3 linked regions of the Homo sapiens genome follow. The protein of the gene in region 1 purifies or fractionates together with the protein of each later gene. This does not show direct contact. Each region holds a gene or a part of one and is shown on either strand. Other genes may lie near its edges.

Evidence for each region. The genes of interacting proteins can lie anywhere in the genome.
Region 2: the proteins of BACH1 (region 1) and CREBZF purify together in Homo sapiens (co-immunoprecipitation; 3 studies listed by BioGRID and IntAct, with this or other methods). This does not show direct contact.
Region 3: the proteins of BACH1 (region 1) and FAM83D purify together in Homo sapiens (co-immunoprecipitation; 4 studies listed by BioGRID and IntAct, with this or other methods). This does not show direct contact.

The regions. Positions count from the first base shown.
Region 1 is NC_000021.9:29,301,911-29,308,933, forward strand, and holds part of BACH1 (transcription regulator protein BACH1), read left to right. Parts: intron 1-3,293; exon of another isoform or gene 3,294-3,412; intron 3,413-7,023. UniProt on the Homo sapiens protein: Transcriptional regulator that acts as a repressor or activator, depending on the context. Binds to NF-E2 DNA binding sites. Plays important roles in coordinating transcription activation and repression by MAFK.
Region 2 is NC_000011.10:85,662,107-85,668,943, reverse strand, and holds the start of CREBZF (CREB/ATF bZIP transcription factor), read left to right. Parts: upstream 1-3,814; 5' UTR 3,815-4,068; coding exon 4,069-5,133; 3' UTR 5,134-5,342; coding exon of another isoform or gene 5,343-5,358; 3' UTR 5,359-6,837.
Region 3 is NC_000020.11:38,921,914-38,929,439, reverse strand, and holds the start of FAM83D (protein FAM83D), read right to left. Parts: upstream 3,024-7,526; 5' UTR 2,998-3,023; coding exon 2,515-2,997; intron 1-2,514.

The sequences.
Region 1 (7,023 bases):
GTGAGGGTGGTTAGTATTTACCATTCAGTTAAATCTCATGTGCCATGTGCCTTCTACACCCCTGTACTGTGAGAGGTGATGCTCAGAATAACAGTTGCAAAGCCCGTTAAAATTACCACTTGTCAGATTTTCTCTTCATAGTGCTGATCTCTCCATGACTTACGTTTTAGGAATCACCACCTCTCTTCTAATTTTCTGACTAATGTTCTGTTAATGAGAGAATTGTCTTAACCCTAAAACCTGCATTCCCTGAGCATTCTAGACAGAGGGTTTATTTTATGTGGTGGAACGATGATTTTTGAGATTGTTTTGATTTAAAATATATGTCAAATGAGGTAATGTACCGATGGCCAAGGTATGGGTAATTTGAGTGCAATTCGCCAGAATCCGTGCCCCTTGGAGGGAGTAAACATTTCAGGACTGCAGCTAAAACATTGACTTACACTCTCCTGAAGCCCAGGCACCTGGCTTACACAGTGCACTAACATAACTGAAGTCTGGGTTTGATCACTGTACAGTTGACAAAGAAGCAGTAAGCAGAATGGTTAAAAAGTAGTTCTGGAGCCAGACTGCTTAAGGTCAGGTTCTGGTTGTGTCACCCACTTTAAAGCCTTGGGCAAGCTCTTCTACCTGGTAACTAGTGCCTCATTGTTTCCTCTGTAAAACAGGGGTGGTGATAGTAGAATCTGTATCAGAGAGGTTGTTGTGAGGATTATATGCGTTAATACGGGGTAAGTGGTTAGAACAGTGCCAGCTTTATAAGAAACATCAAGTGTTAGGTGTTATTATCTGTTGTTCAGAATCAGGGAAGTACTTAGTTACACAGTAGTGTTTTATAGCTGTTGAGAGCTGAATTGCCGGCATTGATCACAAGTGAGACTGGAAAAACAACCCGGGGAACACTCTTATGTTAAGTCAGTAGCACCATCTCAAACATACATCCAACTTCTGAGGGCAACGAACACAGGACATAGCTTTTTACTTAAAGGAATCTTAACAGTCTCAGCGGAGTGCTTGAGGTAGTCACTAACCAGTTAATTGAAACTGGCTTTTACGAAATAAAAACACTTGCCATTCTTTGGCTAGTCTTTTCCACGTTGTAGTTGACATTGTGGCCTGGCAGCTTTAGTAACCTGTCCACCCCTCCCTTCTTGTTAATACCAGAACAGAACTAGTTTCTCAGTACATATTCCTGGGCCCTATCCAGTTTGTTGGAAACATTTAGAATGTAAATTTGTAAGCTAATTAGTTTCTTCTAAGTATTATGTTTTCTTTAGATGATATGCCTGTACTAATACAGAAAAATTATCCATGAAATGGATATGAATACAATGGACATATTTATCGTATAGCTTTTTGTACCTGTTAGTAATTCAGAAAGGTTGTGTTATTTTGACCATTCTTTCAGCCAGATTGTAAGTTTCCTGATGGTGAGAATCTGTGTCTTTCTGTTTTATCTCCTATGGCACTCTGAATGTGCCTTGGCTGTGTTTCTTTAATAAACTGTTGGTTGCTGAACTGGGTGGTATGATATGCGTTCATTCTAGTTCTGTGATTTTGAAACTTGGGAATGTTTAACAGATTGAAGGAGAGAACATCGTGTGTGGTACCTTGTAAGTGTGCACTGAGTTGAAATTCTTTTGATTATTTAGCTTTCTACTTTCTGTTTTTATCATTGGTGTGATTATTGAGAAGGCAGCTGGAATTAAGTAATTCTAGTTCATCTCCTAAGATAGACATAAAACTTGTCTTGTGACTTATTTTTACCCATAATTGGATTAGAATTGAATTGAGCAAAATATAATTTGGTTTTCTAGATGTTAAATGTCTTATATGTCTAATACTTTGAATATCACTCCTCTAGAACAGGTTCTTTGTTTTATTTAGGATCAGGGACAGGTTAGAAAATATTCAAATATTCATAGGATAATAAAAAACTGCCCTGAAGCAAACGTGAGGAAGAAGAAATAGTGGTAGCCAGAATCTTGGTTGTTAATGACCAGTGTAGAAACACAGTGGGCATGCAGTGAAATTGGCTGGCAGCTGGTTCCTTCTCAGTACGGGCACAATTTAGAAAATGTTACATTAATGCAGCTGAAATTTTGTGCAGATCATGTTATTTGAAAAATAAATGTAAACACTTTTTGCAGTGCCTTAGGAAAGTCATCGTTCAAACTAATATTTTTGTAATAAACTAGTTATTCCCAGTTTTTTTTTTCTTTTTTTTTTTTTTGAGATGGAGTATCACTCTGTCGCTCAGGCTGGAGTGCAGTGGCGCGATCTCGGGTCACTGCAACCTCCGCCTCTTGGGTTCAAGCAATTCTTCTGCCTCAGCCTCCGTAGTAGCTGGAATTATGGGGCACCCCCCACCATGCCCAGCTAATTTTTGTGTTTTAGTAGAGATGGGTTTCACCATGTTGGCCAGGCTGGTCTCGAACTCCTGACCTCAAGCAATCCACCCGCCTTGGCTTCCCAAAGTGCTGAGATTACAGGCGTGAGCCACTGTGCCTGGCCCCTAATTATTCCCAGTTTCTTTCAGGTAAAGTTTTTTTCACTTTTTAAATTTATCATTTTTTTAGATCAGATCAGTCAGTGGACAGTTGCACTCTACTTCCCCATCCCTCATTAAAGTGGAATTACACTAAAAAAGGTTTTCAATTCCTTTGTAGCCTGGACATTAGTAATAGCCTACCTCTAAGGCTGTAGAGTAAATAGTATAGTAAGGGAAATGTCCCTCCCTCCCCCTACACACCTTTTTTCCAGTTATCTCTTCTTTTTATTGATTTGTCTGCCTCCAGGACCCTAGGGAGGTGTTTTTGTCCTAAGGAGGTGAACTCCTGAGGGTCCTATTGAAGAAATAGGGCGACCTATCCACCCAACTTCCTCTTTACTGATATCTTCACATGCTTATTGCCTTATTCATTTTCTAAAGTGTGCCAGCGTCTTTCAGAAGTCAGCTAAATTAGTGCAGTTGCTCATCCATCAGACAGTTTTGTTATAAAATATGTGGCTATAAAAGATTGAATAAATTTATTAGGTTGTAATTTCATTAATGTGTATTTTATATTTAAATATTATTTTAAAAAATGTACAGTGGTTATCTGATCTTGGCCCAGGCCTCTTCAATTTCCAGTGTACCTGATGTCTCTTTATCAACTGTTTTTCTGAGGTGTATCTCAGCCTGGCCTTGGGTACTCCCCTAGGTAAGAGTCATAATTCAGGTTAAAAGAGGTAAGAAAAAAAAAAGCTTTTGGCTTTTGTAATCTTGTTTTTTTTTTTTTCTTTCACATTAGCAAAAGACTGTTGAAGTAGAGAGCATTTTGCCCAGCTCACTCGGATTCTTTGCTGGCATGCCTTCAGTTTCAGTTGTCATCCAGAGAAGTCAAAGGAAATGCTGCTTGGGGATGAGCATGTAATTACGATTAACTTTCCCTACTTCGTTGTCTCTTTGTGGTAAAAGACTGTCACAAGTGCTATTCAAACTATAGGTATTTTTTTTTAGATTTCTAAAAAGTATATTTTGTCTCTGAGGGCCTCCTGTCTTTGGACTAGTTTGTCTTTTTCCAGACCCCAGAAAGGCTGGGCCACCTTTTCTTCTTTGAGCAGGTTGGCAACAGTGGTCACAAATAGCAGAGGAGCTGAGATTCTAGAGAGCTATCCTACCACTGCTTCTCAGATGCCAGTGTGGAAACAGCCTCTTCTTTTTTGTTGAATTAGCTTGGAACAGCTCTCTAATCTCTGAAGAGTGAGGAAAAACTGTGTTTTTAAGTTTCAAGGCTAAGGCACTGTGTTCTCTTTTCTCCCTGTTCCTGCTGCTGTTCTCCCCCAACTCACATGAACGCATACTTAACTTTCAGTGTATGTGGACAGTAGGGTTGCTAAATTCATGTCAATATTTGTGGCATTCCTACATGTTAGGCATTTGGTTTACATTTAACTTATGAAACAAATGTTTAGGCTTTTATAAGCCAGGAACTTTTCCAGATATTGGCAATAATGAACTTTTCAGAAGTTACAGTCTAATAGACAGGCAAACTATTCCCATAGCATGCTATAGTAGCAACATGTAAAATGTGCTGTGGAACCACAGACTATTAAAAGCCTAAGTTTTGGGAAATCAAGAAAGCCTTAGGGATGTTTAGTGATGAATGCATAGGTTAGTGGAGGAAACAACTTGTATCAACTCAATTTGAGAAGCTTAGCTGTGAATAAGAGGAGAGAGAAATAGATTTTAGTAGGGAGAAGTTGGGTCAGGAAGAGTGTGTGTGTGTGTGTGTGTGTGTGTGTGTGTGTGTGTGTGTATTTAAAAATCCAGTCAATGGAAAAAGGTTGAAGATGCAGGCAACGTCCTTGTTTTGTCCTTGGCAAGTTCCTCTTATGGTTGCAAGATGGCTGCCACAAGTTCAAGTGTCACAAGAAAATATGACTTAAGTTTCCTGGAAGAAGACACACTTTTTTTTTTTTTTTCCTAGGTTGTTGCTATCAGTGAGAAAAATTTTTCCCTAAAGCCTCATAGCAGATGCTACCTTGTCCCTCTCTCCTCTCTTCATAGGTCAGCATTGCACACAAGCCAGTGCCTAAATGAGTCAAGGTCAAGGGGAATAGTACCGCTGTGATTGGCATAAATGGATCGTGATTCATCTTAGGTTGTGGCTGGGGTCTACTTCCTTGGAAGTTGATGGCCTCGGGTTGAGAGTAGATACGTGAGCACAGTCAGGGTTTGGTTAGAAAGTGAGGGGGTGAATGGTGTTGTGCAGTTAACAGTGACATCCTTGTCTACTAGTTCTGCCACCACTACACTTAGATACAAACTTCGGAGGAGAAAAAGAAAATGTGCTTGCCTTTGGATTTGGAATTTTAGGTGACTTTTTTTCCTCTTATATGCCATTTCCTTCTATGATCAAGTAGCACTTTTACAATCAAATCAAATCAATGGTTTATTTAAAAATTATTTAAAAATTGAAAATGCCAATTTTGTCAATAAATATATATAGAAGAAATAATTTTTTTTTTCAATGCTTTAAACATTTCAAAAGTTCCCTGCCATTGTCTTATTCCTTTCAGGGAGAGGAGAACATATAATTATATCTTGTAGTTTCTGATTATGTGTATACTAAGAGGACTACTCTGTCCCTCAGTCCATAGTGCACACCCACCTGTGGTCTCTATGGCTTGCACTGAGTGCTGAGGCCAGCCTGGCTCAGATAGAATTGTTAGTTCATTGGCTAGATGGGTCAGGATTCTTTAGAATGCAAATTCTTGAATCAGGAGTACAAACAGGAACATCTTCCCTTTTCTACACACTCATTCCCCTCCTCGAAGGGAAAGCTGTCCCGTAGTTAGCTTATTCGTCATTCTTTTCAGACTTTAAAATTAATGCCACCTTAAGTTTATACAGTATTCTTGTAGTACTCCTAACTTTTCTGTTTTGCTGTATGTGTACATTGTAGAAAGATTAAATCAAGCTAATTAACATGTCCATTACCTCACTTACCTTTGTGTGTGTGTGTGTGTGTGGTGAGAACCTTTAAATCTACTCTCTTAGCAATTTTGAAATACAGTAGGATCCCCACCCACTGTTTTACTTTCAGCAGTTTGTTACCTGTGGTCAGATGAAGTCCAAAAATATTAAATACAATAGATATTTTGAGAAAGAGACAAACATCACATTCACATAACTTTTATTACAGTATATGGTTATAATTGTTGTATTTTATTATTGTTAATCTCTTACTGTGCTTGATGAAAAAGCATAGTATATATATAGGGTTTGTTACTATCTGCAGTTTCAGGTATCCACTGGGGTTCTTGGAATGTATCCCCTGTAGATAAGGGGGACACCTGTGTATGTTGTTACAAGTATGATCACTGTGTAAAAGCACTTTTGTATTTCATTCTTGTTCCTTCTCAATCGCAGGTCTGGGTGCTTTCTGTGCTGTGAAAGGCAGACAAATAATGTAAATCCTAAACACTTGAGTGTTGTAAATTTACAAAATGAGAATTGCTCAATGGTTGTTTCTTTTTGAGAGTAACAAATAGACTGTGATAAATGGCCAGAGTAGGCTTCTGAACTGGTATTAGTTTTTTGGATAGAATTTAGAAAGACTTGTACTACCAATATAATTTTTGTCTCAGATAAATGCAATAGTATTTCCCTACTCAGTAGTTCCTCAGATGCTATTTAAACTGAGCTATATTTCAGCTTTATTTATAGGCTGCAAATTGTTCCTTATTTGGCTGAATCTTGTGGTTATGATATAATGAAAAGTAGTTACTGAGATCACTGGTGCAAATCTGTAGCTTGGAAATCCTCATTTTAGAAATGATTATTTTGACTCCCAAGTTAAATAGTAAAAAATAGACTTATGTTTTTAGTTTTAGCTATGTATATTGAGAAACTGTGGCCCTACGGTGGCTGTTAGGGATTAGTGGATTAGGTTGTTTTTAAATAAGACATTTCAGTTTAGTATCTCTACTTGAATAAAACAGTTTCAAATTTGTGATTCATATGATATACTGATTGCCCTACGGTAACTTCTGTTTTATTTAATTAAAATTGTTAACATTCTTTTTTATACTCTTAAGCACCTCCCTCCACCCTCACCCCCCTTTTTGACTCAAATTTTATTGTGAGTTGGTGTATAGTTAGGAATTTGAAGAGCACTTTTTTTGTTTATTTTATCTTTTCGGTTACTATGCATACTATGTGTGTCAACTCTTAAACCTGCAGGGGGTCATTTTGGCCATCAACTAGTTTTAGGGCTTTCGCCTCCTAAAGAATATGAATTATGGTTGTAATTTTTACAGTTTAAAAAACAAGATGGCATATGAAGAATCTTTATTTCATTATGAAAATAGAACATGGATGCTTAATCCTCTGTATTGAAAGTAACTTGTAGTGAAATACTTCCTAGTGTTCTCTTCTTCTAGTTGTCCATATGTAGTATGTATAACTATAGACCTTGATGATTTAAGTTGAGCACAGTTTAGTGTCAGGTTCCTTTCAGTGATGCATGAGATTGG
Region 2 (6,837 bases), on another chromosome or scaffold:
TGCAAGCTCCGCCTCCCAGGTTCACGCCATTCTCCTGCCTCAGCCTCCCGAGTAGCTGGGACTACAGGCGCCCGCTACCACGCCCGGCCAATTTTTTGTATTTTTAGTAGAGACGGGGTTTCACCGTGTTAGCCAGGATGGTCTCGATCTCCTGACCTCGTGATCCGCCCGCCTCGGCCTCCCAAAGTGCTGGGATTACAGGCGTGAGCCACCGCGCCCGGCCGCATGTTTCTTAATCTAATAAAAATACTAATCTCAAATCAATAGCTAGATAGTTAAGGCATTCCTGTTAAAGTCAGGAATAAGATAAGGAAGTTGGCTACAAACATTATTATTAGACATGAATCTGGAAGTGCTATTTTATTATCAGTCAAGATAATAATAATAATTGCAAAGCAGGAAGCAAAAGAGTTATTATGTATAAGGTTATGTAATTATTAAAAATTGATAAATAAGCTGAAAATTAAAACAAGAAAGTTTGGTGCACTAGTCAGTTAAAAATTTAACAGAAAAGACAAATAGCTGTCCTACATAGTAACAATAACCATTTAGAAATAGAACGGAAGAAATAATCAATTTTATGCAAAGTTTGCATAAAAACTAGGTAAAGTTTGCATAAAAACTAGGTGAAAGAAATGAATAAATTTAATGCAATTTCCATAAAAATTCTAGCTTTTTTGAACTTGGAAAGTCTTCTAAAGTTATGTGGAGAAATAAATACTTAAGTATAGCTAGAAAATTCTAAGAAAGTACAAGTAACAAAGAGGGACTTGCCATATGAGATATGAGAATGTAATATAAACTCCAATAAAAAGTGGAGTGATTTTGCTTCTGGAATTGCAGAACTGATCAATAAAATAGATAAAGACCAGAAACAGATCCAAGTGTATGTAAGAATTTAATATATGGCATGTTGGGAAGTCAGTGGGACAAGTACGGATTATTCAATGAATTGATAAGTGGATTTTTTTTTTTTTACATAGTCTTACTCTGTCTCCCAGGCTAGAGTGCAATGGCGTGATCTTGGCTTACTGCAACCTCCGCCTCCAAGGTTCAAGTGATTCTTGGGCCTCAGCCTCCCAAGTAGCTGGGATTACAGGCATGTGCCACCATACCTGGCTAATTTTTTTCTAATTTTTTGTATTTTTAATAGAGATGGGGTTTCACCATGTTGGCCAGGCTGGTCTTGAACTCCTGACCTTAAGTGCTCCACCTGCCTTGGCCTCCCAAAGTGCTGGGATTACAGGTGTGAGCTGCTGAGCCTGGTCTTTGATAAATTGACTATTTAAAAATTACAGCCTGAGAAGCAGCTTTACAACTCCACCCCTAGTAAATGGTAAAATGATTTTTAAAAAAAGTTGGAAAATGTAAGAGACAAAGGGATGTTTTCCTTATAATGTAAAGAATTCACATAAATCAAGAAGAAAAAAGACAAACATCTTCCCTGAAGAACATTTTTTCCCTACTTCAAAGAAAAATGAGTTAGGGAAGTGAAAATCCTATTCGCATTAGATGTCAATTGGTCATGTGACAAACATTCAACCTTCCAATAATCAAAGAAAAGCGAATCTGGGCAGTTGCAGTGGCTTGCGCCTGCAATCCCAGCACTTTGGGAGGCTGAGTCGGGCAGATCACCTGAGGCCAGGAGTTCGAGACCAGCCTGACCAACATGGTGAAACCCCATTTCTACTAAAAGTACAAAAAATTAGCCAGGCATGGTAGTGGGTGGGGGTTGGCGGCGGGGGGTGGGGGGTTGGTGTCTCTCTATGTTGCCCAGGCTGGTCTTGAACTCCTGGGCTCAGGCAATCCTCTTGCCTCGGCCTCCCAAAGTGGTAGGATTACAGGTGTGAGCCACCACGCCCAGCCAAATCATGTGTATTTAAAACAAAATTTCGTAATTTAAAAAATATAATCAGTTAATAATATTGAATTTTGCCTAAGGGGAAAATGTAGTTGGATGGGATTACCAGCCATACAAAACACCTGTACTCAAGGGAGGCCAGAGTATACATATATCACCTTGAACTGTGTGCTCTTGTACTTTGGCAAAATCTTTCCTAATGGAATGTTAAGCAGGACAAGGAGTCCTTTTATTTATTCTTCTAGATACCACAGGTCATACTTTTTTCACACCTTGAAATAATTGTTTTCATTCAGGTGAGCTTTAGTGTTATGGCTTCAGTCAAAACTGTAGACTTTATTCACTCACTCACTCAATATTTGTTGAAGCCTATGCAGTACCAGGCACGTTTCTCAATATTTGGGACCTGTCAGTGTTCAACTTCCCTGGACCTTGCTTTCTGTGTCTCTAAGAAATACTGTATAGAAGCAGCTATCCTCGAGGATATCTACTACATTATTCAGTATCCTATAGAGAAGTTTCTTTAAGATTTAAGAACTAGAAGAGCAGTTAAAGAATTCATGTATATTTTACTCATGAACAAAGGAAAATTCATTTCTCTTTTTTTGTTTGGGCTGTCAGGAAACAATTTTTAGCCCAATTCAAACAACTGAGTAAGATATTGCATCCATCCAATTCCAAGATTAACCTTTTCCCCTTTCAGAAATCCTTCTCTTCCTAGTTCATCTTTTATTGGCCTTGCTTTTTAAAAATTCAAAATGTTTTGTTTTACTATATTCTAATGTACTTGTAAACTGCTTCAAATCTCAAATCCCTTGTGGGATGTGAACCTAAATATCTGTATTTGTAAACTGCTTCAAATCTGAAATCCCTTGTGGGATGTGAACCTAAATAACAAACAGAAAAGGTCTCTAAAATAAAAGACATGTTTTGAGAATGGAGCATTTCAGTGGGAAAACGCATGCCATAGTAAACTATGTGTGTATTCAGGAAGACGAAGGAAGACAAAGAGTTTTAAAGGAAAAAAAAATGAGGATGGTTACACATTGTTTTGAACTAATTATCTTAGCTACAAAGGTCAATAACAAGGGTGACGTCAGTTAAAGGTTGGACAGGCAGTTTCTGGGCAGACATCCTTGCAGAGGTTTTGTATAAGGTCGTGATGGTCTTTGTGCAACGTTGTGGTTTTTACAGTCTTTGTTTTCAGGCATACAAGCATGAGTACCCTCTCTTCATAGCCTTTCCTGGCTCTATTTGTCAGAGTTTTTGTTTGTTTGTTACCCAAATGCAGTAAGTCAGTACTGATTGGATTTTGGCTCAAGTGAAAACATCTACTTACAAAAATGGCAAGAACAACTGAAGACAATTTTTGTAAGCAATGTTGTATTCTACATTCATTTTGCTTTGGTTTTAATTTTTTTTAATTGACAAATAATAACTGTCATATTCATTGGGTACATAGTGATATTTCTATACATATGGAATGTAGTGATCAGGTTAGGGTAACTAGCATATCCATTATCCAACTGAGGACATCTAGTATGGCCCAGGTATTAAATAGTATTAGTAAACGATTGTTAATTTTCTGAAGACTTGGTAATAGTATTATGATTATGAAAAAAAAGTCCTTATTTTTAGAGATGCACACTGAAGTACGCAGGGGTGTGGTGTCTCATCTGCAACTTTAGGATGATTCAGCAAAAAAAAAATTTACAAGCATTTATGTAAAGATAAAGCAAATATAGCAAAATGTTGTGTTGAACTGTTGAGTCTGGGTATTGGGTGGTATTGAATTAGGGTGGATAAATCTAGAGACTTGTTATTTTTGCCGCTGTTATTATGACATCACTAGAAAGCTGGAATTATTCCCACTCTAAAGCACCCTGAAATCTCGCGACACTACGGCCTGGTGGCGCGCGAAACGCGGTGGGCGGGACTGGGGCGAAAACCACTGACTTCCGGCTACGCCGTTGTCTGGGTGGCGCGGTCGAGTCATCGCAGGGCCTCACCGCTTCGTTCTCCCGTCCCTCCCCGCGCCTTGGCGCGGGGGGTCGACTAGCCAAGTGAGGCGGGAGGCGACTCGGACCTTTCCCTGCATTTCGTTTCGGCCAGTGCCGGGGGCTACCCGCCCTGGGGCCTGGGATCCTTGGGGCCCGTGAGGCCCACTCTTAGCGGCCGGGGCCTACCGCGGCCCGCCGCTGGCCCTCATGAGGCATAGCCTGACCAAGCTGCTGGCAGCCTCGGGCAGCAACTCCCCAACCCGCAGTGAGAGCCCGGAGCCGGCTGCAACTTGTTCGCTGCCCTCTGACCTGACCCGGGCTGCAGCGGGGGAGGAGGAGACGGCGGCGGCCGGATCTCCCGGCCGCAAGCAGCAGTTTGGCGACGAAGGAGAGTTGGAAGCCGGGAGGGGGAGCCGCGGCGGCGTGGCCGTGCGCGCGCCCTCCCCCGAGGAGATGGAGGAGGAGGCGATCGCCAGCCTCCCGGGGGAAGAGACGGAGGATATGGACTTTCTGTCTGGGCTGGAACTGGCGGATCTCCTGGACCCCAGGCAACCGGACTGGCACCTGGACCCCGGGCTTAGCTCGCCGGGGCCTCTCTCCTCGTCTGGCGGAGGCTCGGATAGCGGCGGCCTGTGGAGAGGGGACGATGACGATGAGGCCGCGGCTGCTGAAATGCAGCGCTTCTCTGACCTGCTGCAAAGGCTGTTAAACGGTATCGGAGGCTGCAGCAGCAGCAGTGACAGTGGCAGCGCCGAAAAGAGGCGGAGAAAGTCCCCAGGAGGAGGCGGCGGTGGCGGCAGCGGTAACGACAACAACCAGGCGGCGACAAAGAGTCCCCGGAAGGCGGCGGCGGCCGCTGCCCGCCTTAATCGACTGAAGAAGAAGGAGTACGTGATGGGGCTGGAGAGTCGAGTCCGGGGTCTGGCAGCCGAGAACCAGGAGCTGCGGGCCGAGAATCGGGAGCTGGGCAAACGCGTACAGGCACTGCAGGAGGAGAGTCGCTACCTACGGGCAGTCTTAGCCAACGAGACTGGACTGGCTCGCTTGCTGAGCCGGCTGAGCGGCGTGGGACTGCGGCTGACCACCTCGCTCTTCAGAGACTCGCCCGCCGGTGACCACGACTACGCTCTGCCGGTGGGAAAGCAGAAGCAGGACCTGCTGGAAGAGGACGACTCGGCGGGAGGAGTCTGTCTCCATGTGGACAAGGATAAGGTGTCGGTGGAGTTCTGCTCGGCGTGCGCCCGGAAGGCGTCGTCTTCTCTTAAAATGTAGGGTCAAGTAATCTGCTCTTTATCCGCGTTTACCCCTTTCAACTCCCTTACACCATGTCAAACTTACCTTAGTGGGACATCTTCACCGGACACATTTCAGAGGAGAGAAAAAAAGTAATATTGAATCTTAAAGTGTTTAGCTAAAAGCATGAATGTGACACAGTAACCAACTCCTAATGATAACATGTGACTATTAAATCTCTCTGACAGTTTCTTTTTTAGGTGATTTCCTTCCTGCCAGGCTCCGTTGTAGGGGTTACAGAACAGTCGTTCCCGCCTCACAACCTGGTAAGGATCCATCTCTTCCCGTAACGCTCATGCTCTGCTGCTTTGTCTACTTTAATGGGCAACATCTCAGTTTGTGTGTGTGTGATTTTTTTTTTTTTTTCTGTTTTGGAAGGTGGGAGGGAAATCTAATTTGGGCCCTGTCCACCCTGGAAACAGACTTGTGCTGGTCAAGAATGTATTTAAGATGCCTCTTCTGGTTGAAATAGCTATTAATGTGTCCCCTTATTCAGACTTGCGTGTACCTAGCTCTTCTGTCCCCAGTGTGGACATGGCCTTGGATGACATCGGTTCCAACTGTACACTGAAACCTGCTTATAGAGAGACAGTTTGGAGACAGTGAAACAGGTGAAGTTGAATGGAAGTTCCGAGTTGTACAAGGTGCAAATTGGAATTCCGATTTTAGGGCAACTTTTCAGAGGTTGACAGTTAAGTATTTGGGGCATGCACAAATGTGATAGTTATTTTGCTGGAGGTGACAGGTATCTCTTAAATATCAACAATGCCTTTTAGTTTTCAGTATGAGATATAGAAACAGTCTATAATGGAGTAACATTTTAATGTCTCACCATTAGAGAAGTTGGAAATTAACATACATATGAGACTCCTGCGTTTTAGTTAATTGGAGAATAAGAATGGCTAATGTTTCTTTGAGGACCAGCAGTGATTACCCTATCACTGAGATTGAATAAATTGTTGAACATCTTTATTTTTGTTGTATTAAAATTTTAGGTTAAATTTATATATGTATGATTAGATATTGAAGGTTGTGAAATGTGAATGAAAACGTGTAAAGTGAGGCTTCACAAAGAATCTTATTCTCTGTGTTTCAAAAGTATTTGTCCTATTTTAAAATAATTTTTTAAATTGAGTGGTTCTGGCCACTTAAATGACACGATTGGTACTATTTTCCTAAGGTGGGATTTATTCCCTTGAATCTATTAACCAGTTGTATAAATTGAATTATGGTGTCCTTCAGTGTAAGAGGCATTAAGAAATTCTTTGTGAAACATCACTGCTTGATAAAGTATATACGTATTTAGCATCCTTGTTTTTCTTTGTGCTAAAGTGGATACAGCTGTTGGGGCAGAAGAGACGGGACCAGCTGCTGGCCACATTTCCTGCTTTATTTTAAAAGGTAGTATAAGAAATGAGGAAAAAGAGGTAATATCAGGGCTTCTGCTGTTTTTTATTTTTAACATGTTCATAATTAAAAAGTATTTTCCAGCAGTCCAAAGATGTAAGTTATCTTACACATAAAATGTTTTATTTTGTTATTTGGTTATGAAAATGGAATCCTTGTTCTTGCACAACTGTAAATGTTTTGTTGCTAGATAATACGATTTGAGACCTGAATTGGTCTTTGGTTTCCAGTGCATCACAGCATATTTTGTAAAATCATCTACTACTGCACTTGAGC
Region 3 (7,526 bases), on another chromosome or scaffold:
TGGCAAGCCCCACCCAGCTCTGAGGTCACTGCCACTCCGGAGACTTTCTTTCTTTAGCCCTTTCCGCAGTACCTGCAGCAAACTCCTCACTGTTTCCCATCAGCACACTGTCCACTCTCAAGTGTTGGCAAGGATGATGCCTTCCCCTGTGGCCCCAGCCATGGTAGTGTCTGATACACAGCAGGCAATGAGTAAGCAAATAATTTGGCATCTATCGGACACACTGAAAATACTCATTGGATTTTTTTTTTTTTTTTTTTCCGAGAGGGAGTCTTGCTCTGTCGCCCAGAGCTGGAGTCCAGTGGTGTGATCTCAGCTCACTACAACCTCCACCTCCCAGGTTCAAGCAATTCTCCTGCCTCAGCCTCCCAAGTAGCTGGGATTACAGGCACGCACCACCACGTCCAGCTAATTTTTGTATTTTTAGTAGAGACGGGGTTTCACGATGTTGGCCAGGCTGGTCTCGAACTCCTGACCTCGTGATCTGCCTGCCTCAGCCTCCCAAAGTGCTGGGATTACAGGCTTGAGCCACTGTGCCCAGCCAATACTCATTGGATTTAAAGGTAATGTACCACCTTTCTCAGTTAAAACTGCCCAGGTTCCAAATACAGCATCTCGGAGGGAACTGTGGGTAGCTAGACTAGGGCAGCAGGTTCTATCTGGAAATGTCAGTATTACAAAATGCCCGTGAGATGAGGGAGAGTCTGAGCTCCTGGCTCCATCCCCTCCTCACGCCAGCACGTGAGTTTAATAGTTTCCCTCTGGCCTCTAGTTCCAGTGCCCTTTTGCTATCACTAAAATTTGGGGCTGGGCAAAAGACTAGAACAATCCACAGCTCTCACTATACAGACCAGTTCTTTACATTTTTCAGGTTCCAAGTGCTCAAGTTCTACTGGACATGAGCTTTGGGGATGCATACCTACACAAGTCTGCCTTTTCCATCTTTTTAATCTTTTCACTGAACCCGCAAGGAAAATGTCTGCTGCATCAAAAAACCCTCAGTCCACCCAAAGCACCTCAGGGCTGGTAAGAGCCTAGCTGCAGCCCACAACCACTCCCTCAAAGGCAAGGCACTAGGTCACTGTATCCACTACCACTGAAACCCCACCAGTCAGGGAAAGAACATTAAGAACATTGGTGAGAGTCGGGGCTTGGACATGTCAACCTGACAATGCACTGGTATCTTCACCCACACTCAGACACACTCAGGTACCAGCCCTAACAAGTCTTAACATGGCTGGGGCTTTATCTGCCATGTCCCTGGCACAGGCAGATAGCCAGGGAGCTGGGCACTGCCAGTCAGCAAGCAACCTGACCATGGCTCCAGACCAAGGTGTCTGCCACGACACTCTATGTGCCACACCCACCTGCAGGCTGCCTTCTTCCTCCTTGATCCCCAGCACCCTGCTGCAGCTTTATCGAGGCTGGCAAGCAGACAAGACCTCCATTGCACCCATGACCATGCCATACTAAGAGTCAGACAGTAGGACCAAAACCCACTATGAATACAGAAGCCGATCTAATGCAAATGTATCTGCATTTTAGGAGACCACTGCAATCTGGCACAGACCCAGCCTATGGAAAACAAACCCCTTGCCCCAGTTTCCCCTCCAGTCTCTGGCAGTAGAAAAAGCGGCAGGGGGCCGGGTGCGGTGGCTCACGCCTGTAATCCTAGCACTTTGGGAGGCCGAGGCGGGTGGATCACCTGAGGTCAGGAGTTCGAGACCAGCTTGGCCAACATGGAGAAACCCCGTCTCTACTAAAAATACAAAAATTAGCCGGGCGTGGTGGCGGGCACCGGTAATCCCAGCTACTTGGGAGGCTGAGGCAGGAGAGTCACTTGAACCCGGGGGACGGAGGTTGCAGTGAACTGAGATCCCACCACTTCACTCCAGCCTGGGCAAAAGAGAATCTGTCTCAAAAAAAAAAAAAAAAAAAAAAGACAAGAAAGAAAAAGCGGCAGGGCTCTCACTTTGCCACTCTCGTGTTTATCTGCTTTTTACAGCAAAAGATGCATGAAAGTAATTAGCAATAATAATTGCTTCCTAATGCCCCGTAGTTGTCTCTGGAGACCATCTTTCTGGAACTTTCCCTGCGTAAGTTCTTTGGTAATGAGTCTCCTAAGAAGCTCCTGAAAGTGGGATCTAGCGTTGGCTGACAGACAGGGAAATAGGCAATTTTCCAAGTTTGATTTTAACTGAAATTTGGAACTCAGAGTACTTCTGGTCCCTCCTTCAGGGATATGAACGTTAGGAGATGGAACCCGGGCACAATTCGCATCCTTGGGAACCGAGGCTTTCCCACTATCCCCTGCCACGAGGAGCGGCCCGGGGGATCCGGGGGAGACACGCAGAGTGGGGTGTGAGTCGGAGACCCTGGGACCACCTAGCCCGCGCGCGCTTCCGGTAGGGCGCAGAGGAGGTAGTGGCCCCGGCCCGTACTCCCAGCAGGCCTCAATTTCCCATTCTTGAAGGGGGTCTCCCGTGCGACCCAGGGCCCTGGAGGGCCGCTCACCTCTCGCGCCGAGCGGAGCTGCTGGCGCAGAGCGTCCTTGCAGCCGTAGGGGCCACCTTCGCCAGCGCCGCGGGGCTGGAAGTGCGTCTCGACACGCGTGGCGCCGCGGTAGGCGCCCTGGTAGAAGGCGGGCCAGCCAAGCTCCAACAGCGGTGGCTCCAGGTCCGACTGCTCGGGGAAGTAGGTGCCCGAAGAGCAGTCGTGCGAGGAGCCGAACGAGTCCTCGGCCGCCGCCGCCGCCGCCGCGCCCTCCTCTCCCGGCCTCTCCGCCGCGCGCAGAATGGCGTGCACCTCATCGGGGTTCAGGAAACGAGCCAGGCGCTCGCGTCGCAGGAAGGCCGCGAAGGCTTCGGGGCCGCCCGCCACCAGCTCCTCCAGAGCCAGGCGCCGTGACTCGCTGAACAGCTCGGTCGGGTTGGGCGGCCCGCACGGCGACAGGCAGGCGGCGGGCACCTCGTCCAGGCCCTCGGACAGCAGAGCCATGGCGGCGCTCGGACTCGACAGCCCTCGGACAAAAACCGGCGTGCAGTCCCGCTTTATAGGCAACCTTTGAATCAAACAGGCCCGCGCCATTGGCCGCACCTCCCCGCCTCGGCTCTCCCATTGGCTGCTTTCCTTCCAATAGCGGAGCGAGGCGGGGCGCAAGCCTCTACGGCTCCGCCCCCTGATGCGTTATTGGCTGCGATGCTGGGCTTGCTAAGAGGAATTTAAACTTGCAGGGGCGAGGCGGGCCGCAGAGCAGGGACAGAGCGGGGAGAGCCGAGCTCCTGGCCATCCCAGCGCGCCCCCTGCCGGTCGCCCCGCTGCGCGGCCGTGCAAGGCCAGGGACAGTCAGGCCTAGACAACGAGGAGAGGCAGGTGCCGACTCCCGGAGACTCTGGCCACGCTGCTCCTAGGCTCTCAGTGCTTTGGCATGGCCAACCATATCGCCTTTATCACCTGCCTTTAACCATGTATTCATTCATTCAAAGAATACCGGCTCATCGTATTAGGACTGCTCCTTTGATTACACCCTCGGGTAGTCTTCTCTCATTTCATCGATTTTTGCCTTGTAAAACCCCAACCAACCGTGGTTATACCCTACTTTCCACCTGCACCCCGGCAGCCCTACAGGGCTGAAGAAAAAACAAAAAGAGCGTAACCATGCTTACTGACTGGTCATGTTTTAAATTCATAATCCGTAAGACTGCCTGCTAGGAGGCCGGGCGCGGTGGCTCACGCCTGTAATCCCAGCACTTTAGGAGGCCGAGGAGGGCGGATCACCTAAGGTCAGGCGTTTGAGACTAGCCTGACCAACACGGTGAAACCCCGTCTCTACTAAAAATACAAAAATTAGCCAGGTGTCTTGGTGTACGCCTGTAATCCCAGATACTCGGGAGGCTGAGGCAGGAGAATCACTTGAACGCGGGAGGCGGATGTTGCAGTGAGTCGAGATAGCACCACTGCACTCCAGCCTGGGCGACAAGATCGAAACTCCATCTAAAAACAAAACAAAACAAAACAAAAGCAAACAAACAAAAAAACTGCCTGGTAGGCCGCATTTCCCTCATTCTCTCTACCTTTTCCTCTCTGACAGCTTGTCTTCCATGTCAGCAAGAACACAGAAACAGTAAGAAGGGAACGTCCACGTGCGGCCATCTAGTCTACCTTCCTGTCTGCATCTCTGCCCGTATACTGGGCATTGATGAACTGTGCCTGTGCCCATCCAACCCCAACCCCTCTGCCTGGGCATTTCCAGCCCCTCTACTACTCACCAGCATCGCTCCAGCAATCTTCTTCTTTCTCCTGGAACATCAGCTTCCCTCTTTACCGATTCATTTCTATCAGCCTACAAGCATGCTGAAATATTTTTCATCTTAAAACAACCCTCTCTTGACCCTACATTCCTCTAAAGCTCCCCATCTCACTTCTTATTTTTGCAGCATAGAATCTCAGATGTGGCTGGCCATGGTGACTTACACCTGTAATCCCAGCACTGTGGGAGGCCAAGGGAAGAGGATCACTTGAGCCCAGGAGTTTGAGACCAGCCTGGGCAGCATAGTGAGACCCTGTCTTTACAAAAAAATACAAAAGTTAGCTGGGCATGGTGGTGCGCCTAACTTTTAGTGCATGGCAGTGCTCATGATGGTCCCAGCCAGTGGGAAGGCTGAGGCAAGAGATCACTTGAGCCCAGGAGTTTGCAGCTGTAGTGAACTATGATCACACCACTGCACCCCAGCCTGGGTGACAGAGTAAGACCCTGTCTCAGAAAAAGAAAGAAAGAAAAGAAAAGAAAAGAAACCCTCAAACCAGTTGTCTATACTTGCTGTCTCCAGTTCCCTTCCAGCCCTCTTCAATCAGGCTAAAACCCCCACTGCTTTACCAAAACCTCTTGTCAGGTTCATCATGAGTTCCACAGAGCTAAATCCAACAGTCAATTTTCAGTCGTCATCTTTTTTATGTAAATGAAAAGTGGGTCATAAATGTGAGATGTTACCATTATTATTTAGCAACCAATAACCTTTTTAAATGGATGAATGCCTGCCGCTGTTGAGACGCCTCTCCCTCTCTACCTCTCCTCTCCCCATCCCCATCCCTTTGTGAAGTTTCTCAAGAATAAGTGTGGGGACTTCCATGTGTCCCTGCGCTGGTATCCAGGGTCCGGGAGGCTGCAAGAGAGCACCTTCTTTTTTTTTTTTTTTTTTTTTTTTTTGAGACGGAGTCTTGCCCTGTCACCCAGGCTGGAGTGCAATGGCGTGATCTCGGCTCACTGCAACCTCCGCCTCCAGGGTTCAAACGATTATCCTGCCTCAGCCTCCTGAGTAGCTGGGATTACAGGCTCATGCCACCACACCTGGCCAATTTTCTGCATCTTTAGTAGAGATGGGGTTTCATCACGTTGGCCAGGCTGGTCTCGAACTCCTGACCTTGTGATCCGACACCCTTTTCATCCTCTTTCAAGAAAAACACCAACAAAGTTCTGTGTGGGACAAGGACCAAGGACTGTGGTCTGAGGCTGTGCAACCACATAGCTTCTCTATGCCTTTAATGCTCGAGGTAAAAAATGAGAATGGCCGGGGCCTTAGCTGCTGTATTGCTGTCATAAGGTGAAGTACTTTATAGTATCGTACTTCCCCACAATAAGCACACGAGGGGAAAGAGTGGAATGGGGCAGGGGGAAGAGGACAGGACATGTCAGTTCACTCCAAGAATGGGACAGAGGAGAGGGGCACCCTTGTTACATATAAATGTCATGAGAGGCGGGGCGTGGTGGTTCACGCCTATAATCCCAGCACTTCGGGAGCTCAAGGCGGGAGGATCACTTGAGGTCAGGAGTTGGAGACCAGCCTGGCCAACATGGTGAAACTCTATCTCCACTAAAAATACAAAAAATTAGCTGGACATCACGGCGAGCGCCTGTAATCTCAGCTACTTGGGAAGCTGAGGCAGGAGAATTGCTGGAACCCGGGAGGCAGAGGTTGCAGTGAGCTGAGATCACGCCACTGCACTCCAGACTGGGTGAAAGAGTGAGGCTCCATCTTAAAAAAATAAAAATAAATAAATAAATATCAGGAAAAACTTTGAAAATGTATGGAATAAATATATGCTACTATACGGCCTCATGTTAATTTCAAAGAGATTATTTGACAGAATGAAGGTCATTCCCAACCACCCACCTTTTCTTGAATTCATCAGTTTTCACCATCTCCTAGTCTGGGGAGACATCTGCTCCAGGTCTGAGCCCCCAGAGCTCCCTCTATTTCAGGGGTCTCATGGGAAAGCCCTCTGTGGGAAAGGGGTGGGGTAAGGGGGAAGAGACTAGGAGCTCTCACCCACCCTCTATTCCAGGAACCTCCTCTTTGTGAATTCAAGTCAGCACTGTTCAAGTGAGCTCACAGCAATAATCACTCACACTAGCAGGTGTTATTAAAAGGAATTTAATAATTTTAATTAAAAACTCTTAACAGCGAATTCTGTCACAGGCCTTGGCAGCTGGAAGCAACTCCAGGGACATGTGCCCCCTTTGGGATGTGGCTGAGCCACAGTTTTGGACCCAAGGCCCACCGGTGCCGCGTGGCAAGGGGCTACGTGGAAGTTACCTCAGTACGATATCAAAGATCTGCGAAGATTTTTTTTAAAAAAGTTTTAAATATATTAGACTCTCTTGATTGCCATTTTTACACAAAGCTGCTGATACAGTATACAGAGTTTTAATTTTTTTTCACATAAAATACATTTTTTTAAGTGTTCTCTGTACACCAGTGGCTTCTGGTCTGGTGAATTATTGCGGAGGGCTGGGGGTCTGCAGACTTTTCCTGGGTGTGCAGAGCCAGGCCCCGCACGGTGGCACTTGCAATGCCCATGGGAAGCAGGCCCTCTGGCCAACAAGAGAGACCTGTTGGGGAGAGGGCTATAGCTTCTGGCACAGGGGGTCACTTTTGCAGAGTCATCCACTGACCATTGGAGCCTTTGCTCTTATGTGCCCTGGGGCAGGGGAGACCATCCCCAAGTTACAAATAGCAAGAGTTAAATACAGCTTTTCTGGGCATCTTAAAAGGAGCACCCTTCTTAAAAGTACCCCAGTATCCTGCTCTAGGAGAGAGAGCAGGTAGGTGAGAGAGCTCAGGATGGGAAGGTATCTGACACCAACAACCACAATGGTCTTATGTTATTACAAAGCCAGCAAACCGGTGGGGCAGGACAGGGGACACACCCTTGTTAGCTTTTCTAAGCCCCTTGGAAATGGATTAAACAGTGCAGAGCAGTTTTACTTATGCTGTATATTTGATGGAGAATTCTATCCTGAAGTCTTTAGTAGCCCTGGGCCTAGAGTTTATTCAGCTTCCCCAAGCTACTTGCCAGAAACTCACAGTCTGGTGATAACCGCCAACTTTCAGTTGTTTGGGGCATATGATGGTGAGCCATGCAGCACCTGCTTTGGAAGTGGTCTCCTTTAATCTAATGAGGAGCTGCCATAGGACCTGGGTCTCAGCAGGAGCTAGGCATCTGGTTGACTTTGCCTGGTTACTCCC